2 separate regions of the Homo sapiens genome follow, and region 1 is linked to region 2. Evidence: fine-mapped expression QTL. A gene starts in region 2. The other region holds a variant in brackets. All regions are shown on one strand. Distances are between the middles of the regions.

Evidence for each region.
Region 1: its variant is fine-mapped to the expression of METTL23 in whole blood (TOPMed, PIP above 0.99).

Annotation. Positions count from the first base shown.
Region 1 is chr17:76,679,123-76,684,487 of GRCh38, forward strand. MXRA7 (matrix remodeling associated 7) reads right to left here. Exons shown (of 4, transcript NM_198530.4): 4 at 444-1,757. The coding sequence ends at 1,745. Among named protein-coding and RNA genes, the nearest start is that of MXRA7, 29 kb to the right of the region's middle. RefSeq lists enhancers at 3,307-3,853, 4,947-5,365. The variant C/A (reference allele first, on the strand shown) is at 2,158.
Region 2 is chr17:76,724,335-76,729,638 of GRCh38, forward strand. METTL23 (methyltransferase 23, arginine) reads left to right here and starts at 2,505. Exons shown (of 5, transcript NM_001080510.5): 1 at 2,505-2,844. JMJD6 (jumonji domain containing 6, arginine demethylase and lysine hydroxylase) reads right to left here and starts at 2,272. Exons shown (of 6, transcript NM_015167.3): 1 at 2,013-2,272; 2 at 1,133-1,521. The coding sequence starts at 2,141. RefSeq lists enhancers at 2,145-2,774, 3,405-4,033, 4,691-5,304 and silencers at 2,196-2,325, 2,436-2,885.

The DNA of each region.
Region 1 (5,365 bases), 45 kb before region 2:
TGTCTCTATAAAACAATTAGCCAGGTGTGGTGGTGAGCACCTGTAGTCCCAGCTACCTGGGAGGCTGAGACGGGAGGATCACTTAAGCCCACGAGGTCCAGGCCACAGTGAGCTGTGATTGCACCACTGCACTCCAGCTTGGGCAACAGAGGGAGGCCCTGTCTCAAAAAAAAAAAAAAAAAGAAGAAGAAGAGGAATTCCCGTGAACAGAAAGGATGTGCTGAGCTCTGTGGATGGAAGCACAATCCATATGTCCCTGAGTGAACACAGATCATGTCATGTGGTTTTGACAGCCATGGTGACTGCATATTTTTTAACAGGGTGGATGTATGGCTTTGTACTCTGCTGCAGAGTAAGAGGCATCAAAATGAAAGAAAGGTCAAACTTCAATGGGTTCAAAAGGGATTTTGTTTTAAAACAAAGCAAACTGAAAAAACACACAGTAATTGAGATCATCTACTCAAAGTTTATTGGACTGAACAAAGGCTGAATACAGAGATCCAAGCCATGAGGAGTACATGAGGTGTGGTGCCTATAAGCCAGGGTCGGAAACTTTCCAGACAAACCTAGATAGCTCTACTAGGAGGGAGTCAACGACCTATTGTGTCAATTAGATCCCAGCCTGGACAAGGGCATGACTATTGCTGTTTGGGGACACGTGGCTCTGTGTTGAAGGCAATGACTGTGTGGCTGTTGCCATGTGGCCTGTTCTCCCCTAAGCCCTGAACCAAAGGTTCCAGGCCCAGATGAGAAGGCCCCTGGGAATGCATGCCATAGGGGTTGATGCTGGACATTCCCCAGCCTTCCATTAAATGAAAACATTTTCTATAAACTTACTGCTTTAAAAAAATGTTTTAACCAACAAACCTAAGAACTGCAAATGAGTTTGGTATAGTATAAATATTGTCAAATATAAAATTCCAAGAAACCCATTTGAGACTGATCTGATGATCTGAAGTTCTAACTAATCTATCAAACTTTCTAAGAAAAGGCATAGGTCAAGAAATCTTTTTAAAGCAAACATTATTGCTTCTGCTATAGCAGAGTGGAGATTTGGCTGAGCTGGTAAGAACCTCAGTGAAAAGGTGTCTTAGCAATGAAAGGGCTGAATCCGAGATTCCTCTAGATGAAAAATAAGGGGAATGGTCAAGTAAATTCCTGGTACTGGTTCTTTGCTGCCCTGTAATCAATATGGCATCTCACCCCCGACAACCAAGCCAGCCACAGAGAGAAGTGGGGTTCCCAGGGAAAGGGGTCGGCTGACCACCCTGACGGAGCTGGTGAGCACAGGTGAGCTCTACCTCATTTGTCTCTCATTCCTCAAAGTCTTCTGTGGTTTGGCTTCAGTGAGGGCAAAAGAGGGGAGACTGGAGTGAAAGTGAACTCTGCTTTTAAAATGTTCTTTTTATCTAAGGTGTGCAGGGTGTGTGGATAGCAAGTTTGAGTGGTAAGAAAAATCCCAGTCCAGGGTCTGAGCTCTACCTCTTAAAACTCTTCAGCTTAACAAAGTGACCCACAGGAACAGACATGAACATCTCTACACAGGGCAGGGCCAAAGGTGTTCCCAGGATCCTGCTAGCCAAGGGACAAGTCCTGATTGAGGGTCTAGAGCTCAGCAGATTTATGGAGGCAGCATGCACCCTGGGAGCCTGCCCAGACTCCTCTCTGGGGTTTCCGTTTTATCTCTCAAGCTTTTAAGATGCCAAAAGGAAAAGCCTTTAGGAGGACGCTAAGGATAACTTCGTTATTCTTCAGTTCTGTAAAGAGAAATGGGGAGAAAAAGATAATTTATTTTACTCATTCCATCCTGCACCATGGGCAAGGAAAGGGGGAAATGGGGACGAGGAAGGAGAATGTTTGGAATTGCAGAAGCTGCGCTAGACTCTGGTTTCTCAAACCACTGCTGATTTGCTTCTCATCGCTTGCAGCAAGACAGTCTGTGCCGCCAAGCCGGCCAGAGCTTGCAGAGCTCCCCTTGATCCCGCACAGAACCTGGCAGCCCACAGACCCTGTTCAGCCTCTGCAGGGTACTTAAGGAAGGAACTTGGGCATTTGAGTTGCCAAGGGCCTTTCTGATCTTGGGTTGTGTGGTTGTGCTGACAATATTCCTATCACCCTAGATAATTTCCCATTCCCGCTGGCTGAGTTTTGTCCCCT[C/A]GGGGGATACTGGCACCCTAGGATGCACGCTTCCAGATGGAGCCAACTGCATGCCCGTCTTTTATGAACCAAGACACACTGCCAGCCCTGGGACCACTGAGAACCCAGCAGGTCTGATCTTGTCCCTCTGACGCCCTCTCCTGGTGGTCACAGTCAGCACGCATTTCCAGCCTGAGCTGGAAATTCACACTGGCAGGTCTATTGTCTGTAGTTTCTTGCATACATCAGATGGAAGAACCAGAACTACCCCACAGCTGGGGTTCCTTGGCCTCCTCCTCCCCTTCCCTGTTTTACCACACTAGCACCTTCCTCTAGAGTCATGTCCATTTCCAGAGGAGTCAAGACAGCCCTGCAGACCTCAAATGGAGGGGTGGGTCCTGATCTATCAGAGCCAGCCCAGTCTATAGCCTGGGTTCATTTTCCCTCTGAGACCACAAGGTGGGAAGAAGTGATGGAGAGGAGCTGACAGCCGCGCCTGTTCTTTCTCCTGCCAAGCTGTGAAGCCAGCCAAGCCCTGCCAGCTTCCCTAGCTCTGGGGGAGGAGGAGGAGGCCTCTTGCTCAGGGGAGCTGTCACCAGCCTGCAAGCCCACTGTCCTAGCCACACTGTGAAACTGGAGGTGGCACTTCCCACAGCAGCTTCAGCGGAACCCAGGGACGCCACCAGAGGCATGAAGTGTGTGAAACTCCGGCCCGAGGGGAGAGCTGAGGAGGCGGGCAGACAGTGGCAAGCAGGATCTTAAGCAGCAGCTGCCTCTGGATTTACAGACCTGACCGCTTTCTGGCCCCAGGCGGAAGGAATTTGATCTGTGAGTAGTTCAAGGATGAGACTGACCACTTCAGCATGTCGGGGAACTAATTGGGGGCCTTCTGCTTCCAGTCCCACTTCCTAATTGTCATGAGAGCCTGTGAACTGAAGCTCCTGGGGAGTGCTGGAACTGGCAACCACTAAAGCTTCAGGTTCTAGATGCAGATCTGTTGGCTGAGCTAGTAAATTTAAAGTTAGGGGACGTGCAGCTTGTAGCTGCAACTCGACTGGACCCTGAGAGCTGGGAAAGGCATCAGAGGCATGGAGGCCGGGAGGGTGGAACCTGACAGGCGGAGAGAGAGCACCCTGCTAGCTGGCCTGTGGTTTTAGTGGTTTGATAACAACAGGCATGTTATTTTTCATACTGATGATTCTAGGGCGGTTCCCTGGACTTGGCTGGGACCAGAACTGTCTCACAGCTGCCAGCGCTCCCCACCCCCATGAGAACCATCGTGCTGAAGATGAAGAGCCAAAGCCAAACTGACCAGCCTCTGCAACCCCAAGCATCACCGTGTGAGGACAGCGTGATGTGGAGCCGCGGAGACCCCACGCAGTGCTGCGAGGGGCAACCACATGCAGGGGGGCAGAGGTGTGGGGGAGCAAGCAGATGCCACCGGCATGCCTAGGAGCCACAGGGAGCATGCGGGCTGGGCAGTGATGGGAATGAACGTGAACTCCAGTCCTGCCCCAAGAAGTCCTCCGGCCCCTCCTTCTCAATTCAGGGCACAAAGTGGTAACTGCAGCATGCAGAGGAGTCGAGGAGTCTTCCCTCGTCCCAGGAGCAGCACCTCGGGCACAGTCTCGGTCCCACAGAACAGCCAAGTGTGGGTTGGTGGTCTAGAGACCTCCAAAGATCCAGTGGGGGAAGGATGGGCAGCAGAGGGTCTACTCTCTGAAAATAAGGGGAAGGGATTTTCCCTCCCCACTGCCAAGGTCCCAGCTCTGGACGTGGGTGGCAGTGGCAGTTTCACCCCCAGCCGGAGGCCTGGTCTTTCTTGTTCTAAGAGGCCCTCCAGATCCATCTGCCTGAGCAGCCTCTGTCCCCAGGGACCTTCAAGGGCTGGCAGTTGTGTCCAGCCCCCTCTAGCCTCTGTCCAGGGACTGCAACCTTTTTCTGCAAACAGCCAGATACTACTTAGATTTGGGGGGCTGTGTGGTCTCTGCTGCAGTGACTCACCTCGGCCACTGCGGCACAAAGAGGCACAGACCACAGGAAAATGGGTGAGTGTTGCTACTACTGCCACGCTGGATTGGCACAGGCAGGTGGGGGATCAGATGTGGCCCGGCCGTTGTCTGCTAACCCTTGCCCTGATCCTAAGAACCTGCCTGTCTCACAGCTTGGGAGCACGGACCGTTCTCAGAGTATCTGCTGTGCACTGTGCAGAAGCTGCCTCATCTTCTCAGGGTGAGACCCAAGGCTGCAGGGTGACGACATCCACATTTCCGAAGCCTGAGGTCCCAGGGTGACAGTTCCCCCAGCCTTGCGAGGGGGCGCTAGCACCCCAACCTGCCGGCCCATTAGGCCCCCTCCAGGAACTCAGGGACTTAACTCCCCTCCAGGAACCTCTGCCCCCAGACGGGGCCTCTTCTGCCAGAGATTCCTCGTGCTTGAGAAGAATGAGAAGGGCTCAGGTGGGAAATGTATTAATCGGTTATGAAGGCGATGGAGGAGGGGAGGTTGAGGCCGCGTCAGTTGTTTGGGGGCACGTTAGCACGCAGTAGAAGGGGAGCACCACTAGTCTAAGAAATCAGTGTCCTTACCAAAAGGATTTGCAAGAATATTTGTGGCTCAGGACCTAAGGAACTTGCTACAGGGAAGTGAGGTCAGAGGTCAGCTCAATCCTGAAATATAAATGCAGCAAACCTGGTCATGCCAAGCGGCAGCATCCTCAGCACCTGAGGACTCGGGGCTCCTGCCAGGGCTCTTCCTCCTGGCTGTGCTTACACTGCCCGCCCCCCACCCACCCAGGGTGAAGAGCTTTCCTGCTGAGGGTCGAGAGCGCTGATGCCAGCAGCGGGAGGGGAGACAGGGCCTGTCACCGGCAGAGCAGCTGTGAGGTTAGAGGGCTGCCCGGCGGGTGGCTTGGCATGCAGCCATGAGAGGGCAGTTGAGTTCTGATTCCAAAATCATAAACCACCCCTCCTGCTCGGACCCTAGACCGCTGGTTTCTGCTGACAAGTAGGGGGTGATTCCCACAAGCTGCTCTGGGTCGCCAGGCTTGGAAAATGGCACAGCTACCACCTAGACTTCTGCTTTAACCAAAGGACTCCAGGCCACGCTGCAGAAGGGCAGCAGTGTGGGTGAGCACCAGGAGCCTGCTGCGCCTGGTGCAAAGGACTGTCCCTCTGCTGAGACCTCCCCAGCTGTCCCACTGTGCCCAGCGCACCCCTTCCCCGCCCAG
Region 2 (5,304 bases):
TGGTCTCGAACTCCTGGCCTCAAGTGATCACCTGCCTCGGCCTCCCAAAGTGCTGGAATAACAGGCTTGAGCCACCGCACCTGGCCAGGTTTTAATTTTATGTGATATGTCATCTTTATTTCAGAGATTATATAAATTCTGGTACACAGAAACACTGGGTGCATTGTTCATGGACTGATTCCTAACAAAATAAGAAAAATCAGCTGGGGCGGTAGCTCACGCCTGTAATCCCAGCACTTTGGGAGGCAGAGGTGGGTGCATCACCTGAGGTCAGGAGTTCAAGACCAGCCTGACCAATACGGTGAAACCCCATCTCTACTGAAAATACAAAAATTAGCCGGGTGTGGTGGTGGGCACCTGTAATCCCAGCTACTCAGGAGGCTGAGACAGGAGGATTGCTTGAACCCGGGAGGCGGAGGCTGCAGTGAGCTGAGATTGCGCCACTGCACTCCAGCTTGGACGACAGAGGGAGACTCCATCTCAATGAAGAAAAAAAAAAGAAAAAAAAAGAAAAATCACTAATGTGGTTTATTGCTGGACTTTATTAAAACCTCCCTTAGAGATCAGTGCTTCAACCATAGCTGCACATTCAAGTCACCTGAAGAGCTTTCAGAAATTCTGATGCGCAGGCATCACCCGAATTAAATCAGTCTCCCCAGTAGGGCCCAGGCAGGCCTCAGGAGCCCCCTAAATGAGTTCAATGTACAGCCGAGGGAGTACTCACTGTTTCCAAAAAAGATTAGCAACTGAACTCAGCGAGCAAATGCTGTTGTAGATAAGATTTTAACCACAGGCCGGGCGCGGTGGCTCACACCTGCAATCGCAGCACTTTGGGAGGCCGAGGCGGGCAGATCACCTGAAGTCGGGAGTTCGAGACCAGCCTGACCAACATGGTGAAACCCCGTCTCTACTAAAAATACAAAATTAGCTGGGTGTGGTGGCGCATGCCTGTAATCCCAGTTACAGGAGGCTGAGGCAGGAGAAGCGCTTGAACTCGGGAGATGGAGGTTGCTGTGAGCCGAGATCGCACCACGGCACTGCAGCCTGGGCTACAAGAGTGACGCTCTGTCTCAAAAAAAAAAAAAAAAAAAAAAGAAAAGGATTTTAACCACTTAGCTGCAGAATACTTTACCTGTAAGGGGGCCTGCGCTTCTCCCCAGCATACTGGAAAAGGTCATCAGTGAAAAACTTTGGCACCTTGTAGTCTTCCAAAAGTTTCCTTCTTTTAGGGTGTTCACCATAGCTGCTGTCAAAGATGTAAAGGGGACTATCATCTCGAGTGCTCTCCATGTACTCGATGTAGTATTTCATCTTCATCTTCACTGAGTAGCCATCGTTATCCTCACCACACTTGAACTTCTGGTTCCGATATTTCCTTTTTAGGCGCTCCAGAGTCCATTTCTCCTGCGCAGACCAGCCCTCTTGCGCATTCAACAAAACCACGGGCTTGTAAGGTCTTTCATACCGCTCCACAAATTCTTCCACAGACAGCTGTAAAGCATCTGCCCTTTCCACGTTATCCTGAGGGAATTAAAAAAGACCTGTCCAGTTAAAAAAAAAAAAAAAGTCCAGTGGCAGATAAGGGTGTCCCCAAGGCCAACTGGTAATGACAAACCGAAGGAAGTTGACTCTCGTCTGGCTCCTCCGGGGTGGGGGCAGGGCGCGTGCGTGAGGCCACGTCGTTCCTAGAGCCACCCCCCATGAGCCTTGACAGCCAGGTCCCCTAGGGGACCCGCCGCCCAAAGGAGTCAGGGACGACGGGCCTTCTAGTTGAGAGCGCCACAGGCGTGGGACTCCCGTCGTCCGCCAGAGCAGACGGGCGGCCACAGCACGGGAGGAAGCAGACCCGCCCCGGAATCCGCGCCTCGGGGACCCCAAACTCCGCGGGGTGCGGGTGAGCCTCTACGAGGTCCCGGGCGCTCGGGGCGAGGGCAGCCTCGGGCCCAGAGAAAGGTGCGTAGCGGCTGGAGGTGCCGATGCCCGGCCTGGCCACCCCCGCCCGACCCGCTCACCGCCACGGCCGCCGGGCTCAGCGAGAAGCTCTCGTAGTAGTTGTGCCGGGTCCAATCCAGCGAGTCCTTGAGCTCCGGCCGCGCACTCCGCTTGGCCTCGCGGATGCGCTTCTTGCTCTTGTGGTTCATTCTGCGGGGTCGCCAGCTGGTTCCGCTACGACCTCGGCGCAGCCCGCTTCCTGACACTAACGCACCCCTCCCCGGCCTGGGCGGCGGCGACGGCAGTACCCAAACGCCCTTCGCTCAGTCCCGGCGCCTTTAAAGTCGCCTTCCAGAAAATTCACTCCCCAGCCACCTCCCGAGCCTCGGGTTGGGCAAGCGGCCGCCGTCTTCCCCGCCCCGACGCCTCTCGCGGTTTTCCATTGGCTTTGGCTCCCCTGGGGTACTCCTTCACATACGGCGGGCCTCCGCCATGTTGGGAAGGTCACGTCGGCTGCGTCACCGCCCCGCCCCGCCCCGCCCCTCCCCTCCCGCGCTGCCGCTGTGCCCATCACTTCCGGTCGCGCCAGCCGCCCGTTGCCAGTTCTGCGCGTGTGAGTCTCTTTCGCCTTGCTCCGGGCTTTCTTCGCTCGCAGCGCGGCAGGGTTATCACCAGATCTGGGCTTTCCCCTTCTTGCCGTCAGGTGCTACGGCCACGTGGCCCGCGGCTTCCCGCTCGCGCAGTCTGGCAGCCCGGAGCCTTCCGCGGTCCCCCGCCCGCCCGGGGCCCAACGACGCCCTACTGGGCGAGCACGATTTCCGAGGACAGGGGGTCCGGGCCCAGCGCTTTCGATTCTCGGAGGAGCCGGGTCCGGGGGCCGACGGGGCTGTCCTGGAGGTCCACGTCCCGCAGGTGCGTGCAGCAGCACCCGCCAGGAGGCGCCTGAGGTCAGGAGCGGATGTCGGCTGACTTGGCTGGGTTCCTGAGGGACCGGGGGTGCGGACGCTCAGCTGCGCAGCTTCCTGCTTTAGGTTGACCCCCGGAGCAAAAACGTCGGATATGAAGCCCTTCGGTGCATTAAATGTCTCTCAGTAAGAATTTTGGAGACCCTGCCAAGAAGTGACCCTGGTCACTATGTTGGTCAGGCTGGTCTCGAACTGTAAGCTTAAGTGATCCTCCTGCCTCGGCCTCCCAAAGTGCTAGGATTACAGGCATGAGCCACTGCGCCGGGCCGGCTTTCTCCACATCGAATCTTTCCTGCCAGGAAAGTGACATTCTTGACTGACCTCTAATGCTTCTTTTGATCTTGTCCAAGGGTTTCTTGATTCATCCTTATCTCTCACTTTTGTGTGAGTTTTGGGATCAGGGTTTCCAGTTTTATTTGGTGCCCAAAGTGTTTCTTGGGTTGGACCTCGCTTCTTCCTCTAAGCTCACAGCTACAACAAAACTCTCAATAATAATTCTTTTTCTTTTCTTTTTTTTGAGACACTGTCTCGCTCTGGCGCCCAGGCTGGAGCGCAGTGGCGCGATCACAGCTCACTGCAACCTCCAACTCCCGGATTCAAGTGATCCTCCCGCCTGCCTAAGTGCTGGGATTGCAGGAGTGAGCCACCATGCCCTGCCTGTCTTCGGTTTTTCAAAGCACTTTCACTTTGCAGTATTTCATTTGGTTTTAACACCAGCCTGTGAGGCATGTCCCATGCTAAAGAAACAGCTTTAGAGAAGTTAAATGGGAGGCGGAGGCGGGAGGATCGCTTGGGACCAGGAGTTCCAGACCAGCCTGGGCAATATAGTGATACTACGTCTCTACAAAAAGTAGAAAAATTAGGCATCGTGGCTTGTGCCTGTAGCCCCAGCTACTCCGGAGGGTGAGGTGGGAGGATTGCTTGAGCCCGAGAGGTCGAGGCTGCTGTGAGCTATGATCAGGCCACTGCACTCAGGCATGAGCAACAGAGCAAGACATTGTCAAGAAGAAAAAAAAAAAAAAAGACTGGAGTGGAGGCTATTTCTGATTGTTTCCAAACAGCTTCACTTTTTTTTGCTAACTGCAACCTCAACCTCTGGGCTCAAGTGATCCTCCCACCTCAGCCTTTCAAGTAACTGAGACTACAGGCATTGGCCACCACACCCAATCTGGCTTCACGGATTTTTTTTTTTTTTTTTGGAGATGGAGTCTCGCTCTGTCACCCAGACGAGTGCAGTGGCACAATCTCAGCTCACTGCAACCTCCGCCTCGTGGGTTCAAGTGATTCTCCTGCCTCAGCCTCCCAAGTAGCTGGGATTATAGGCGCCCACCACCATGCCTGGCTAATTTTTGTATTTTTAGTAGAGACGGGGTTTTGCCATGTTGGCCAAGCTGATCTTGAACTCCTGACCTCAGGTGATGCACCTGCCTCGGCCTACCAAAGTGCTGGGATTACAGGTGTAAGCCACCGCTCCCGGCTGGCTTCACGTTTAAATACACTTGCATTTCTTCCTAAATGTAGGGGGTGATGATATTGCCTGTGAGAATAGAAGCCTCTTTCCTTTTTTTTTTTTTTTTTTGGAGTTGGAGTCTTGCTCTGTCGCCCAGGCTGGAGTGCAGTCGCGAGATCTCTGCTCACTGCAAGCTCTGCCTCCCGGGTTCACGCCATTTTCCTGTCTCAGCCTCCGGAGTAGCTGGGACTACAGGTGCCCACCACCATGTCCGGCTAATTTTTTTGTATTTTTAGTGGAGTAGAGACGGGGTTTCACCGCGTTAGCCAGGATGGTCTCGATCTCCTGACCTGATGATCCACCCACCTCGGCCTCCCAAAGTGCTGGGATTACAGGCGTGACCCACCACGCCCGGCCATTTTTTTTTGAAACGTAGTCTCACTATGTTGCCCAGGCTGGAGTGCAGTGGCGCAGTCTCGGCTCACTGCAACCTCCGCCTCCCGTGTTCAAGCGATTTTCCCGCCTCAGCTGGGATTACAGGCACGTGCCACCATGCCCGGCTAATTTTTTGTATTTTTAGTAGAGACAGGGGTTTCACCATGTTAGCCAGGCTGGTCTCAAACTCCTGACCTCAGGTGATCCGCCCGCCTCATCCTCCCAAAGTGCTGGGATGACAGGCCTGAGTCACCGTGCCCGGCCCCTGACTAGAAATATCTTATTTGCTTGCTCGTTGCCTCTCTACAGTAGGATATGTGCTCAGGGAGAGCTATATCCCCAGTCTGAGAATGATCCCTGATACTGTGACACTAGAAGCACTTGTTGAATAAACAGTGCTATCAAGAGTTTCTATCACATTGCATTGCAGTTTTATATCCCCAAAGGTCGTGGATTGGTGAACAGGGCTGCCATTTTTGTAATGGATGCCAATGCCTGACAGAAATTGCTGTATGAATGATT